2 separate regions of the Homo sapiens genome follow, and region 2 is linked to region 1. Evidence: fine-mapped expression QTL. A gene starts in region 1. The other region holds a variant in brackets. All regions are shown on one strand. Distances are between the middles of the regions. Region 1 holds the start of KDM5C (lysine demethylase 5C). Region 2 has its middle 47 kb from the start of KANTR.

Region 1 (8,334 bases):
GGTAGAGAGGGGAAAGGGACTTGAGTTATCTCAGCATAGTGTAAGACCGGAAGTCACCAAAAGCAGCTCGGAATCCCACTGGCACCTTCCCAAACCTCTAGCCACTCCAGACCCTTTAACCTGCAAACATCCTACCCAACCACCCACCCCCACCTCCCCCCAGAACTCACAAGAGTCTAGCAGCCCCTCAAGTCTGCACCCAAGGCCCCATGCACATGCCCTAGGAAACTTCTCCTGAGTCCCACCCAACAGTACAGTGCCAGGATTTCAAGAAATTAAGAGATGGAGCCTCTGTTTTGTTGACCCTAAACCTTCTCCACACCCACATTAATTCCTTATCCCCTAGGCACGTGCTGTAGGACACACAGGCCTGGGAGTACTGGAAAGCACACAGGATCTAGAGTCAGAAGATATGGGTTCATGTTCTAGATCCGCTACTTACTAGCTATGAGATTTTAGCTTTCTGAACCTGTTTTCTCATCTGTGAGGTGGGAATATGAACTCTAGCCCTGGCTTCCTTGCCAGACCAATATGGAAAATTAAAACTAGTTTTCAAATGAAAATGTTATTCAAAGGAGTCACCGTTATGACCTGACATCTAAGGCTGACCACACCTCACAATACACATGCAGGGTAGCTCAGGTCCGATTGTGGCAGGACGTAAAGGTTTGGGCCTTTAATGTTTGTTCTCTCAGTTTAAAGGGCCTGAGATAGACACTGCAGGGAAGAGCAAGGAACAGGGAGCAAGTATGTGTATCACTCACCCAGTCTGGAAGGCTTCCTGTAGATCCTCTCTCATACACCTGCCTGGTACAGGAAGAGGCAGGGGAGGAAGCCCCAGGGGGTGGGGGTAAGTGCTGGGATGCCTGACTGTGGTGGCAAAGAATGGGAGGATTTGGGGAGGGAAGTCAGGGAAAGATCATGAAAGTGGGAGACACTCTGCTCTGCCAAGTTGGAGCTTGCTGTGTCCTGCCCAAAGGTCAGCTGTGAAGAACCCCCTCTCCAACACCCCTTTCCAACCTCCTATGCAGACCTCTCCTTCCCAGAGCCCTGGCTCCTGCTGGGGTGGTGAAATCAACCTAAAGTAACCTAAACCAATGTTCTCATTTTATAAATGGGGAAAGTGAGGCTCAGAGAAAAAAAGTGAAATTTCCAAAATTACATGCTGAGTTAGTGGTGGGGCCAAGAACCCACGTCTTCTGACCTCTGATCCAAGGCCTTTGCACTACACCAGACATCAATGTTCATACATACATGCATACACGTGGGCGGGGGGGAGAGACAGTGAAAGAGAAGAAAAACTGTTGACCTCTTCTGCACACACACTTTTAGAAAATGGGCTAGAGGACTCATATTTTGCATGCATACACAGACCACACTCCCCTGCCCCTACCAGCCAAAGCAGGTGGCAAACATCTGGGGCTCAGTAAGCAGGGACAAAAAAAAAAAAAAACAGGCAGGCCAAAATGGTATGGCTCAAATCCAGACAAGCTCCCCATGCCCTCTTGCCTCTCATCAGGATAGGGCACTCCCCTCAGCACAGGTAACCCAGCTAAAAAGGTGCTCAAACCCAAAACTCCGGGCACCCTTCTTTCCTGCTGAATCAAGTTCTAGACAATCAGTGCAACATCAAGCACCTGACAGGAAATGGCAGCCCTGGAATGCTACGGCAGGAGCCATGGATGCAACAGATACCTGGGAAGGCCCTGCAAACCGCCTGCCTTCATCTCCAGACTACTGTATGCCAAATGTATGTTGGTATTACTGGGATGTGGTGATAAAAAAAAGGCTGGCTACCTGATGAAGAAAGCAAGATCCTTCCAAACTCCACTGGGTCTACTCAGGGTACCCACACTCTCCTCCCACCCATCTTTCCCAAGCGTAGCAGTCACCTGCCCAGCAATTCAGGCCCCAAACCATCCTTCCTCCAGCAAACCTCCAATTCCCAGGTACCCACCCATATACAGGTTCCCACCCTGGGCCCAAGCATCACTTGAGCGAGTACTTCAAACTTCAACCAGAAGAAGGCCAGCTGCCTAAAGGTGGCCTAGGAGCTGCCATAGAGAAGGAAAAAACAAAACCAAACCAGAGAGCCAGGTATCCTGGATTAGAGAGAAGCACACTGTTGAGCAGTGAAAAGGACGGCCTCCTGCTGGCCATGCACACCTGGGACATGTCACTCTTCCCCTTCCTGATGCCCCAAAGCAGGGTAACAACACCTACACAAGGCCAGCCTGCCTAAGTCAGTCCAAGATAGAAAAAAGGAATTCAGGCCTCAACTACCCCCTACGTCAGCTATGCCTCTTTTTCCCACAGGCTTGCCCAACCACTTCAGGGAGTGCCTCCTTGAGGCTGCCCAGGACTCCTGCCTCTCCCTTCCACTAGCCTTCCTGACCCTCTACCCACTGCCACTCCCTCACCATGGACAAGGATACCTCAGAAATCTGTGGCCAGACTCCAAGAAGGAAGAAATTCGCTTACCCAACACCTCCTAGAGGATCTATCTGAAACCATCCTAGATCTGTGGCTGAGCACCAGAAAGCACCAAGTTGGATAAGGAGGCCTGTGGTGCCCTCCTCAGGTGGGAATGAAGCTTCCTATTCCATTTCAGCCAGGAGACACCCACTCAAAAACACCCTTTTCCAGCAAAGCTCAATTTCTGCCCTTGGAATCCCAACTGATCACTGAACATTATCATCACTTTTCCACCATATCAGCAAGGCAGCAGCTTGCCCTAGCCCTTGGGAGACTTCTAGCCTGAAGCCAGGCCTAGGAGGAAAGCTATGGCCTTTGTTGCTGACCCCTGGCAATCATGTTCCAAAAGGGACAGAATTCCATGGCTCCATTCTGTTCTGCGGGCCCAAGAGTGCCCTATCCTCTGGGATCTCCTACATCCTGGACCAGAGGAGAGTAGAAATCTTCTGAGAAGGACTCACACCCCACCACCAAGCTGACCGGTCCAAACATCTCCATAGGAAGTCAAGTCTGCGGGATGATGTGCAGAAAAGGCCTTGACATTGCCTTCAACGAGGAAAAGAAGAGGACAATTCCCTGAACCCACCTCAAGGGAGACAGAGCAATCCCTGTGAGACTGATTTCCTGACTGGTCCAGCAGGCCAGGATATTATCATAGATGAATTGGCCTGGCAAGGTATGAGTAAATATGAGTCAACCTACATAGGAATAAACCAATGACCACATCAAACACCCTCACAGTCACAATAATTACCACTTATCTAGTGCGTACTACATACAGACGCTACCTAGTTTAATTCAATCCTCTAAATAACCATTTCTGGGATCCATTTCACGGGCTCAGAGAGATTACTTCTACTTTCCCAAGGTCACACAGCTGCTCAGCTTCAAAGTGGAGTTTTGAACTCAAGTCTGTCTCCCTTCAGGACTGCGATCTTTCTATTAATACTATACTATGCTGCCTGCCTTAAAGGAAGTGATGACAACAGATTGGAGAAACGTCTTATTTTTACAGCCTCGACCTAGGTGGCCCGGGCTAAGAGATGTGCGGGGTGCCTCTCTGTGAACTCCCTCCGGCCCACTAGGAATCCCTGTCTTAAACCCGGAGTGATTCTGAAGGGCCGGGGTGGGGGTGGATCTCTGACTCCAGGTCACCTGTGGGCCTCACACCACGAGAGGACCCCTGGCCCAACACCCTTTTTCCGATCCGCGCCGCAACCACAACGGTCCCAGCCACCCCCTCTCCCCACCTCGAGCTGCCCTCCGCCCCAGACTTCGCCGCTGGCTATCCTACTGCTTCATTCCGTCTCGCCGCCGGCGAAAACCGGCCCCGGGGCTTACCGCGGGTGGGCGGATCTTGCAAATGCCCGATTTCTCTGCGATGGGCCTGATTTTCGCGATGTAGCCAAGAGGGTCTCGGAACTCGGCCCAGCTAGGCTCGAACACCGGGCACTCCGGTGGCGGTAGGAAATCGTCGGACCCCGGCTCCATGGTGGGCCCGAGGTCTGGGCCAGGGATCGGGAGGCTTGGACCGCCCTTAAGGACTCATGGCGCCGCCGCTGTTTGAAGCCGAGGCAATGCTCGGAGGCTAGGCCCTAAGCGGGGCAGCCGCCGCCCGCCGAGGGCCTAAGGGGGCGTGTGGCCGTCGTGCTCTGAGAGTCTCAGGCTGACTCTACTGCTACCGCCTCTTCGTCCCGCTCCGTTTCTTCCAAACTGTGTGGTTGCCTCCCCACTACCGCAGCCTTCGCCACCACAGTTACCTCCCAAACGCCGCGGCCTTCAGCGCCGCCGCCGCCATCTTGGTTTGTCAGCGTCTCCCCTCCCCACACCACAACAAACCGGATCCTTCCGCGGGGTGTCCTTCCGAGCCTCGTATACGTTGCGTCACACCAAGCCCTAGGAAACCTTCATATAGTGGAGACCGAGCTAAATAGGCTGGTATGGGTTTCTATTTGGAAGGGGTTACTCAAAAGTACCACCCCGGACTGAGAGAAAATAGTTCATTGCAACGGCGGAGGAACAAGATTGTAATTAGTTTGCCGGATCGTCTTTCCGGATGGACCGGCGGTGCACGTTTAAAGGCCAGTGATGCGCATGCGCGTTATGGAGACCGGAAGAGGAGCTGGTGTCCGTGGGTGGTGGAGTCAAACCGGCACTCCCCCGCAGACCTCAACCAGGTCGCTAGCCCCGCACCAGTGTTCTCTGTCCCTTCTCCCTGGTCTTAACGGTATGGGCCGCGGAAGGCGGCTCTGGGAGCCTGATTGCAAAGGACCCCTTATGCTGGCCCGCGGGATGGGGGGAGATGTACTAGGCTCCAGCTCTAGACACTGACACCTCTGGGGCTTTGAAATAAGGAAGGCAGGAAGCTGCTCACTCCCCGGGGATTATGGATTTTTAGGATTCTGAGTCCCAAGTAAAGGAAGGAAATCTTTATTTCATCCAAGGTTACAGGTAGAGAGATGGGGTTTCGATTCTTACCCCCCAAAAGTCACTGGGAGTCAGCATTTTAATGAACGCTTTCAACTGTTCTGTATTCACTTTTACCATGTACACATTTGTGGCATATACTCCTACAAAATAAGCCTGTGTGTATGTATACTTTAACTATTGGATGTTTAGCAACGGCGTATTTATCCAGTGTCAACTGTGTAAAACACCTGTTTGCCCATTTGTGAGCCTACAGTGCACTTACCAAACATCCGTGTACTTTTATTGTATTTATTGTGTATAGCCCCTGTGCATTTGGTACCAACTGTATGTACATTTAGTCCTATCGTGTGCATGTTCCTTGAGCAGTTTCTGAATAGGTTCATTGCAACTACAGTACTTTGAATGAGTATCATCAAACCAGTACTTTGTACATATACATCAGGCATCTACTGATTGGAGGATCATCTGTGTCATTCATCAGCTGTGGACCTACTGCATATAGTTTGAACACCTACTGTGCAAATATTTGAGTACTTGCGTACATGCTGATTAAGTAATTTTGTTTTCCCCCATCAGACTATGAATTCCTTAAGGGCAGGGACCATGTGGCCTTATACATCCTTAGCACTTGGCATGTTAAGCAGTAAATGAATGTTGAGTAAACAAAAGAAAAATGAATAAATGTCCTTAGTATATATTGACTGAAAAATATGAATACTTTTTGCAAACATTTCCTGTTTAACATATTAAACATCCACTGTAAGCTCGAGGCAGATAGGGAGTGTCATACCTTCGTGCAGTTAACTGTTCCTAATCAGATACTGTGCCAATTAGGTCCATCCTGCCTACTTCAGGACTGAGCTAAGGACATCCTGGCTGAGGGAACAGGGCACACAGGTAGGAAGGAGCTCATGCCCTGGGCTCAAAAGAGTCATGCCTTGCAGTCCCACCAGCTCTGCCATTTTCTAGTTTGTAACCTTGAACAAGTCCCAACTTCTGTAACTGAAATGGGGATAATACATACCTTGCAGAATTGTTGTGTACTTGGCACATAGCAGGCCCTCAGTATCTGGTAGCTGTTATTTTTATTTCTGAGAGTCAACAACCAATATGCCAAAACTCATTAAGAATCTCCTTTGTGTCAGACACTGTGCTAGTGCTTTTGTATTTTTTTTTTTATCACCTGAATCCTTATATTACCTTGAATGTTCAAGATCTTTATCCCCACTTGGCTCGTGTGGAGACTTGTCCCAAGTGACACAGATATTAAGTGACATCTTTCTAGTTTTCTAGGTGTCAGGGGAAACCTCAGCCCCTCTCCACCAGAAACACAGGTGGATGATCCAACTGAACAGCTGTCTGGACAGGAAGCAGGAAAACTAGGCAAAGTGATGCTAATCACAGTAATATCACTAGCCTCTCACATGGATAAGCATCTAATTGCCTACATGGCTAGTTCATACCAATTATTTCCCTTAATCTTTGCAACAGTCTTCAGAAAGATGTAGGTGAATTTACCCAGTCTGTAGATGAGGAACCAAGTTCCAGAAAGATTAAACAACTTGCCCAATGATACACAGGAAGTTGCTGACTCTGGTCAAATGCTCTTCCTGTCGTTTGCCCTCACCAGGAGTGGAGGAGGTGAGGGAAAAGGGAGCTGCTGGGGTGGGAGGTAGAGTGGTGGGGCAGGGCCCAGTCCTTGGCAATATGGGGCATGCAGGGCCTGGAGCTTGGACTGCCCATCGGGCAGCACCCCCAGGCCACCGTGGCTGTGACCGTGATGGTGGTAGTGGTGGTGGTGCGTGGAAGAAACAGATGAAAAGGAGGCAGAGGCCTGGCCAGAGAAGGGTGAGGAGAATCTAGAAGGTGGGAGAATACGGTAGATCTTAGGCCGAAGGAAGTTCAGCCTTTCCATCTAGAGGCTCAAGGAAGTACAAAGAGCATGAATCAGGAATCAGGAGGCCAGATTTTGGGTCTCAGCTCTGCACAGTCTTCCTACAGCCTTCTTTGAGGTCCTTTAGCCCAGACACACCCGTCCTAGAAGATTAAATAGAAATTATGTAGTCTTTGAAGCCAATGAGATAGAATTTATTCGTTTACAAATATTTATTAAATTTCTACTATGCACCAGCAAATTTTCTGGGCACTGGGAATATAATGGTGACCAAGACAGATGTAGTCTCTACTTTCCTGGAGCTGACATGCACCCACTGAGATCTGCCAAGTACCTCATCTTCCTGAGCCTTGATTTTCTCCTTTGTATAATGAAGCTAAATAATCCCTTCCTCACAGTGTTGTTAGGAGGATTAGAGATAATGATGACTGCCATTCATCAAGGGCCAGGTGCTATGAAGTAGGTATTGTTATCCCCATCCTACAGATGAGGAAACTGAAGCTCAGGGAAGTGTAAACTTACTCAAGTCACATGGCTAGTAAGTGGCAGGACCAGAACTCAAACCCAGGTCTGTCTGACTGCCGTACAATTCTGCCTGTAAGAGTCTCAGATGGTGCTCCCCATGTAGTAAGGCATTCAGGAAATGGGTTTGTTCCCCAAGCCATGGGTCTTGCTGGGGGACAACCGGAGTCTAGACGCTGGGGACTTAAGAATTGGGATGCATCAGGAAACTCACTCCAGGCTGGGGGCTGGCTTGGCCTCACCCATCCACCCGGGAGACAGGGTCTGACATGGAGTTGGTGCAGAGCAGTGACTGGAAGGCTCGTCTGGGCTCAAAACCACACGCACCCCATTCATGTTTTGTGGATCAACTGGGCTGACACTGACTTTGTGTCTCACTTTTTTTGGTTTGTAAAATATGATCTCTTCCAGTTCTGAAGTAGGTTTAAGCTGTTGGTTCTGATTCCTAAATAGCTCTAGAATCCATCCCCTCCTCCTTGCCATCTTCCACTCCTCCTGTGAGCCTTTTACTGTCTCTAGCCTGGACTCTTAAAAGAGCCTCCTCAAGGTATCTGTGTGAACTCATGGTTTATTAGACAGAGACAGAGAAATATCGATGTCTAGTATAGAAATATAGATGTATAGTATGTGCTTATACATATACATAACAATAAAATGATTTATCCAAAGTAATGTTAATTCAAAATGAATTATGATAGTAGTGGATTACAACTCACTGGTTAAAATAAAAATCCATGACTCCACATTGATATAAGTAAATAAAGTGAGAGAAAAGGGAAAGTAGAATTCTAAATTATATAGAAGGAATGATGGAGCTAGAAATCATCAATGGATGCTCAAACCTTTGCAAAATAAAAGAGCAAGCTCTTAAAATATTGCTGTAACACCTAGTGCCCAAATCTTGGTTTCTAAATGTCATTCTCTACTAAAAAGAACCGGGGCTCCTTGGAAGGGCTCAGAAAAAGATGGAGATGTGCCACAGGACACAGGGGCTTAGAGGGCTTCCTACTGGC
Region 2 (8,334 bases), 84 kb before region 1:
ATTACAGGCATGTGCCACCACACCCGGCTAATTTTGTATTTTTAGTAGAGACATCTCACTATGTTGCCCAGGCTGGTCTCAAACTCCTGGGCTCCAGCAATCCTCCTGCTTCAGCCTTCCAAATTGTTGGGATTATAAACATGAGCCACTGCACCTGGCCACATTAGTATACTGTTGATGTTGAACCATAACATTCTAAGTGGCCCTAGGATTTTCTTTTCTTGGGTTCTCCCATCCAGTTTTATAATTTAGGTTATACTAACCTCAAAAAGTGGAATAAATAGGTTTTACTTTTGTTATTGTGCATATGATTGGAATTAACTATACCTTGAAGGTTTGCTGCAGCTCACCTACAAAACCCACTGGGGTTTTGAGAGAGAACAGTTCTTTGACTACCATTTTTACTTCTTTAATACTTACTGGACTATTCAAGGCCTTTCTATTTGTGCCATTTTTAGCATGGTGTATTTTTCTAAGAATGTATCATTTATTTTCATCTAGGTTTTTTAATTCATTGGCATGTCATTCATAATTCTTCACTGTTAAAAAATCTATTTTTCTGGTCAGGCTCAGTGGCTCACGCCTGTAATCCCAGCACTTTGGGAGGCTGATCAGTGGCTCACGCCTGTAATCCCGGCACTTTGGGAGGCTGAGGCGAGCAGATCACCCGAGGCTGGGAGTTCGAGACCAGCCTAACCAACATGGAGAAAGCCCGTCTCTACTAAAAAAAAAATACAAAATTAGCCAGACATGGTGGCACATGCCTGTAATCCCAGCTACTCGGGAGGCTGAGGCAGGAGAATCACTTGAACCCTGGAGGCGGAGGTTGCGGTGAGCTGAGATCGTGCCATTGCACTCCAGCCTGGGCAACAAGAGCGAAACTCCATCTCAAAAAAAAAAAAAAAATCTGTTTTTCCCTAGTTATTGCCCCCCTTATCATTCTATATCTTGTTTTTTGTTTTGTTTTTTTGTTTTTTTGTTTTGACAGAGTTTCGCCACCGTGCCTGGCCTATATCTTGGTTTTTTAATTTTCTTTTTGTTTTTTTCTTGATCACTGGTCAGAAGTCTGTCTCTTTTATTGGTCTTTTCAAAGAATCTGCTTTGGTTTGCTTAATTTTCACTGTTATCTTTTGTTCTCTATTTTATTTATTTCTGCCTTATTTCTTTCTTGTTTCTTTGAATTTATTTTTATTTATTTATTTTTTTGAGATGGAGTTTCACTCTTGTTGCCCAGGCTTTAGTTCAACAGCGTGATCTCGGCTAACCACAACCTCCGCCTCCCAGGTTCAAGTGATTCTCCTGCCTCAGCCTCCCGAGTAGCTGGGATTACAGGCATGCGCCACGACGCACAGCTAATTTTGTATTTTTAGTAGAGACAAGGTTTCTCCACGTTGGTCAGGCTGGTCTTGAAATCCCGACCTCAGGTGATCCGCCCGCCTCAGCCTCCCAACAGGCGCGAGTCACCACGCCCGGCCTTTGTTTCTTTGAATTTAGAAATATAGGCTGGGCGCTGTGGTTCACGCCTGTAATCCCAGCACTTTGGGAGGCTGAGGCGGGTGGATCACCTGAGGTCGAGAGTTCAAGACCAGCCTGACCAACATGGAGAAACCCCATCTCTACTAAAAATACAGAATTAGCTGGGCGTGGTGGCACATGCCTGTATTAAAAGTACAAAATTAGCTGGGTGTGGTGGCGCATGCCTGTAATCCCAGCTCCTCGGGAGGCTGAGGCAGGAGAATCGCTTGAACCCAGGAGGTGGAGGTTGCGGTGAGCTAAGATTGCGCCATTGCACTCCAGCTTGGGCAACAAGAGCGAAATTCTGTCTTAAAAAAAAAAAAAAGAAATATAAACAATGTGTCATTGGCACAGAAACAGACAAGTAGACCAATACAACAGCATAGATACAGACACCTGTATATAAAAACCTATTGTATAACAAATCAAGGGAGAAAGGACAGTTGCTTAGTTAAAGGTGTTGAGAAAACTGGCTCATGACAGAGAACAATAAAACTGGATCCCTTCCTCATGACATGTACAAAAATGGATTCTAGGGGCCAGGCACAGTGTCTCAACGCCTGTAATCTCAGCGCTTTGGGAGGTTGTGGTGGGCGGATCACTTGAGGTCAGGAGTTCAAGACTGGCCTGGTCAACCAGACATGGTGAAACACCATGTCTACTAAAAATACAAAAAATTAGCCGGGTGTGGTGGTGTGTGCCTGTAGTCCCAGCTACTCAGGAGGCTGAGGCAGAAGAATCGCTTGAACTCGGAAGGCAGAGGTTGCAGTGAGCCAAGATGGTGCCACTGCTCTCCAGCCTGGGTGACAGAGCGAGACTCCGTCTCAAAAAAAAAAAAAAAAAAAAAAGGAATTCTAGGTAGATTGAGGACCTAAATGTGAAAATAAAACTGTAATGTTAATAGAAATTGTAGGGAGATGTCTGTGACCTAGGGGCTTGGACAAAACTTCAAGACTATAATCCATATGCTGAAGAGATGATTGGATTATAGCAAAATTAAGGATTTGTGCTCAATGAAAGACACTATGGACAAAAGTAAGAGATAATGTGCAGATTGGGAGAGGATATTTGCAATGCATAAACCAACAAGGGATTTGATACCTAGAATATAAAAAGATTTCCTGTGAATCATCAAGAAGAGAGGTTGGGTGTAGTGATTTATACCTGTAATCCCAGTACTTTGGGAGGCTGAAGCAGGAGGATTGCTTGAGGCCAGGAGTTTGAGACCAGCCAGACAATACAACATGACCCTGTCTCTAGAAAAAATAATTTTTTTTTAAATTACCTGGTTGTGGTGGCACATGCCAGTCATCCTAGCTACTTTGGGAGGCTAAGGTGGGAGGATCACATGAGCCCAGTAGTTTGAGGTTACAGTGAGCTGTGGTCATGCCACTGCACTGCAGCCTGGGTGACAAGCAAGACCCTGTTTTTAAAAACAAAACAAAAGAAGGAGGAGGAGGCAGGAGGAAGGGGGAGGAGGAAGGGGAAGGACAAAAGAAGAAGGAAGAAAGAAAAAGAAGACAGCAACGCCAATAGAAAATTAGCCAAAGCATACAATAGTCAATTTGCAGAGGAAGAAATTTGAAAAGCCAGCAGTATATGATGAGGTGTTCAAGATCATTGCAAGTATGAGGAATTAAAATAACAGTGAGATACCAGTTTATCAGCCCGACAAATTTAAGAAGCAGGATAATGCCAAGTGGCGGTGGGGGTGTAAGGACCTACAAACCCTCCTGCATGGCTGATGGGAGTGTGGACTAGGGCAGCTGTTCC[G/A]AAGAGCTGTCTGGAAGTACCTTGTCAAATTAGATATGCATTTACTGGGCCAGGTGCGGTGGCTCACGCCTGCAATCCCAGCACTTTGGAAGGCCGAGGCAAGTGGAGCACCTGAGGTCACTCAGGAGTTCCAGACCAGCCTGGCCATCATGGCGAAACCCCGTCCCTACCAAAAATGCAAAACTTAGCTGGATGTGGTGGTGGACTTCTGTAATCCCAGCTACTCAGGAGGCTGAGGCAGGAGAATCGCTTGAACCCAGGAGGCAGAGGTTGCAGTGAGCCAAGATCACACTACTGCCCTCCAGCCTGGGTAACGGAGTGAGACTCTGTCTCAAAAAAAAAAAAAAAAAAAAAGTATATGCATTTACTGTATGACCCAACAATTCTGTTCCTGGGTACAATAAATCCCAGGGAAGTACACAGATATATAAGGGGCCATATGCAAGGGTGTTCATCACACATTAAGCACAAAAAGGCCAAAAACAAAATGTATGTCCCTCCAAATTAGAAGTTTCCAAGGGCAAAAAAAGTGCAAGCCTTCTCTCATTAAAGTAGAGATTCCTAGTCTGTGTGCCCAGGTACCTGACAGTGCTGCATTTCAGTTCCAGGGGTGAGAGTTATCAATAGTTATAATTTTTAAAATAATGATAAATGTTTTTAAAGTATCTCTAACATTTGTAACTGTGTTTTTCTAGTTTAAAATTATTTTGAAGGCCAGGCGTGGTGGCTCACGCCTGTAATCCCAGTGCTTTGGGAGGCTGAGGCAGGTGGATCACTTGAGGTTAGGAGTTCGAGACCAGCCTGACCAACATGATGAAGCCCCGTCTCTACTAAAAATACGAAATTAGCCAGATGTGGTAGTGCATGCCTATAATCCTAGCTACTCAGGAAGCTGAGGCAGGAGAATCACTCGAACCCAGGAGCCAGAGGTTGCAGTGAGCCGAGATCGTGCCATTGCACTCTAGCCTGGGCAACAAAAGCGAAACTCCATCTCAAAATAAGTAAAATAAAATTATTTTGAAATTATATTTGAACAGTGTGGTGTTTCACACAGTTCCCTCTTTGAACGTCTTGGTCCAGTGCAAGATCTAGTGCATGGCTCCTACTACCAGAGAGGGGCTGTGTGGGGGCTGCAGTATACAGCACTTCTCTGACCTTCTGTGGGAATCATTCGACTTAACCTGATTTTTGCCTTCCTCCTGCTCATCATGATACTTTGTTGGTGTGCATATGTGTAGTATTTAAATACTTTATTAGATTCAATCTGCTCTTTTCACAATTTTTTCTGGTAACATGGAAGCTATATCTTTTATTATCAGAATCAGCATCTATTATTAGGTGCTGCTTTAAAGGAACATAACTGATTTCATTTTCTTAGTTGTTATTCCCCCATTGTTTTACCTTCCCTCCCTCCCTTCCTCTTTCCTTTTTTCTTTCTCTCTGTCCCTCATTCTTTCTTGCTCTCACTCTCCCTCTCCAGTTGCTCCTTCTCCCACTCTCTATTATTGGATTTTTTTTTAACGGCAGCACTTTTATTTTTCCTTACACAATGACGTGTTGCTGGGGCCTAATGTTCTCACATGACGGTAGAAAACCAAAATTTGTTGTCATCTCTTTAAAGAATTTAGAATTATGTAGAAAAAAACCTTACATAAATTAAAAGGATGAATATATTTACAGGTGTAAATCCAAACCGCTTCCAACTCAAGGCAAGTAACAGCCCACGGTGTTCTGGCAGGAAAACATCAGCTAAGAAAGGAAACTGGGTCCTATGGCTTGGACTTTCCAACTCTGACAGACCGGCAGGACAGAAACAACTGGTTCAGGAGCCCTTGCCAGCCTCTAGAGAAATCCCAGAACACTCAGCCCTGATGACACATTAATACCCTGCACATATTGGAGACTGCTGACCACGCATACTCACCAAGCCACAGACTTGTCTTCCACAAGCACGTTCTTACCTCAGCCACAAAGTGCCCAAGCCACATGTACTAAAGGTTGAAATCAGAGACATGTACAGGGTATTAAACAGATACCAAGGGGAACAGTTAACTTGAATATAGCTTGAATAGAAAGTCAAAATCAGCAACAAGTCTACAATCCAGTGCTGATATCAGATACAAGCTTCAAGGACAACTTTCTGTGTATGTTTTTTTTTTTTTTTTTGAGACGTAGTCTCGCCCTGTTGCCCAGGCTGGAGTGCAGTGGTGCAATCTCGGCTCACCACAACCTCTGCCTCCCAGGTTCAAGTGATTCTCCTGCCTCAGCCTCCCCAGTAGCTGGGATTATAGGCGAATGCCACCATGCCTGGCTAATTTTTGTATTTTTAGTAGAGACGGGGTTTCAGCATGTTGGCCAGGCCGGTCTCAAACTCCTGACCTTGTGATCCACCCGTCTCGGCCTCCCAAAGTGCTGGGATTATAGGCGTGAGCCACCACTTCTGGCCACAAATTTCTTTTTGAAGGCTTATTCCAGTTTTGTGAGGCTAGCATGAGGTGTATGCATTTGCCAGGGGCAAATTTATACTGCTGAATTAACCCATGCAACAAATGCTGCACATCTGCTCGCAGTCCATTTAGAGGCATTTGCGGTAGACAATGGAGGGGCCAGACTCATCATACATACCTGATGGCTAACCCACATGCTTGCAGTCCATTTAGAGGCATTTGCAGTGGATGATGGAGGGGCCACATACCTAATTGCTAATCCACATCTGCTGGAAGGTGGACAGTGAGGCCAGGATGGAACCACCAATCCACACCGAGTACTTGTGCTCTGGGGGCATGATGAACTTGATCTTCATGGTGCTGGATGCCAGCGTGGTGATGCCAGGGCACATGGTGGTGCTGCTGGACAGCACTGTGTTGGCGTACAGGTCTTTGCGGATGTCCACGTCACACTTCATGATGGAGTTGAAGGTGGTCTTGTGGATGCCGCAGGATTCCATGCCCAAGAAGGAAGGCTGGAACAGCACCTGCAGACACCAGAACCACTTGTTGCCGATGGTGATGACCTGACCTGGCCATCAGGCAGCTCATAGCTCTTCTCCAGGGAGGAGGAGGATGTGGCAGTGGCCATCTCCTGCTCGAAGTCCAGGGCGATGTAGCACACCTTCTCGTTGATGTCGCGCACAATCTCCTGCTTGGCCGTGATGGTGAAGCTTGGTGAGGATCTTCATGAGGTAGTTGGTCAGGTCCTGGCCAGCCAGGTCCAGACGCAGGATGGCGTGGTGGGAGGGCATGGCCCTCGTAGATGGGTACCATGTAGGTGGCCCTGTCTCCAGAGTCCATGACAGTGCCAGTGATGCGCCCAGAGGCTTAGAGGGACAACACGGCCTGGATGGCCACATACATGGCTGGGGTGTTGAAGGTCTCAAACATGATCTGAGTCATCTTTTCTCTGTTGGCCTTGGGGTTCGAGGGGCCTCGGCCAACAGCACCGGGTGCTTCTCTGGGGTCATGCACAGCTCGTTGTAGAAGGTGTGGTGCCAGATCTTCTCCATGTCATCCCAGATGGTGATGATGCCATGCTCGATAGGGTACTTCAGGGTCAGGATGTCGTGCTTGCTCTGGGCCTCATGGCCCATGTAGGAGTCCTTCTGGCCCATGCCCACCATCACACCCTGGTGCCGGGGTCACCTGATGATGGAGGGGAACACAGCTCAGGGGCCATCCATCCCCAGCAAAGCCAGCTTTGCACATGCCAGAGCCATTGTCAATGATGAGCGCGGCGATCTCTATTTCCATTGCAACCTGTGGAAGAGCAGGGCGGTGGAGCCATGGGAAGACACGGTGTGGGGGCTGGTGGCAGCAAGTGACTGTATTACTGGATTTTGAAGTTAACAATTAGCCAAATACTGATTTTTGATGGAAATTTATTCTTAATTATTTTCTTTTAGAAAAAAATAGGAAAACATATAACAATAGAATTACTTAATTAAATTGATTCCTTGGCTGGGTGGCTACGCCTGTAATCCTAGCACTTTATGAGGCCGAGGAGGGTGGATTAGTTGAGGCCAGGAGTTCGAGACCAGCTTGGGAAACATGGCGAAACCCCATTTCTACTAAAAATTCAAAAATCAGCCAAGCATGGTGGTGCGTGCCTGTAGTCCCAGCTACCCAGGAGGCTGAGGCATGAGAATTGCCTGAGCTTAGGAGGCAGAGATTGCAGTGAGCCGAGATTGTGCCACTGCACTCCAGCCTGGCAGTAGAACCAGACCCTGTCTCAAAAACAAAAAATCTGTCTAGGCTGGGCATGGTGGCTCACGCTTGTAATCCCAGCACTTTGGGAGGCTGAGGCAAGTGGATCACCAGAGGTCAGGAGTTTGAGACCAACCTGGCCAACATGGTGAAACCCCGTCTCTCCTAAAAATACAAAAATTAGCCGGGCATGGTGGTACATGCCTATAATCCCAGCTACTTGGGAGGCTGAGGCAGGAGAGTGGCTTGAACCTGAGAGGCGGAGGTCGCAGTCAGCTTAGATTGCACCACTGTAAAGAAAAGAAAAAAAAAAGTCCATACATGAGTGTAGGGAATACTTTGTGAATTTTTAGACTTTTTATTAACCACCAGAGAATATTTACTACACCTGGGTGTTTTTTAAAGAATACTGTTCTTATTCTGAAATAAGTAGACCGTTTTGCATATGATCAGCCAGTGTCCCTTACACAATTTATTTCATGTAATTTTCATCTTTCCCATGTAAATCTCAGTTCAGCCACTTAGTGGATCCAAGTCTCCAGGCAGCTGCCTTAGTCGTTCTGTGTCTCAAGTACTTTTAATCCATATTGTACAGTAAGGTGAATTTATAGATTTCAAGATCTATAAATTCTATAGATCTATAGGTGAATTTGGGGTGGAGCCAAGATGGCCGAATAGGAACAGCTCCAGTCTGCAGCTCCCAGCATGAGCGATGCAGAAGACGGGTGATTTCTGAACTTCCAACTGAGGTACCAGGTTCATCTCACTGGGGAGTGTCTGACAGTGGGTGCAGGACAGTGGGTACAGTGCACTGAGCGTGAGCCAAAGCAGGGCGAGGCATTGCCTC

Evidence for each region. PIP is the estimated chance that this variant, and not a neighbour inherited with it, causes the effect.
Region 2: its variant is fine-mapped to the expression of KDM5C in whole blood (TOPMed, PIP above 0.99).

What each region holds. Positions count from the first base shown.
Region 1 is chrX:53,220,924-53,229,257 of GRCh38, forward strand. It overlaps KDM5C (lysine demethylase 5C), which reads right to left and starts at 4,284. Exons shown (of 26, transcript NM_004187.5): 1 at 3,817-4,284. The coding sequence starts at 3,966. It also overlaps a transcript of IQSEC2 not described here. RefSeq lists enhancers at 3,826-3,925, 4,166-4,545, 4,384-4,678, 4,556-4,605.
Region 2 is chrX:53,136,880-53,145,213 of GRCh38, forward strand. It overlaps a transcript of KANTR not described here and the pseudogene ACTG1P10. Among named protein-coding and RNA genes, the nearest start is that of KANTR, 47 kb to the left of the region's middle. The variant G/A (reference allele first, on the strand shown) is at 3,289.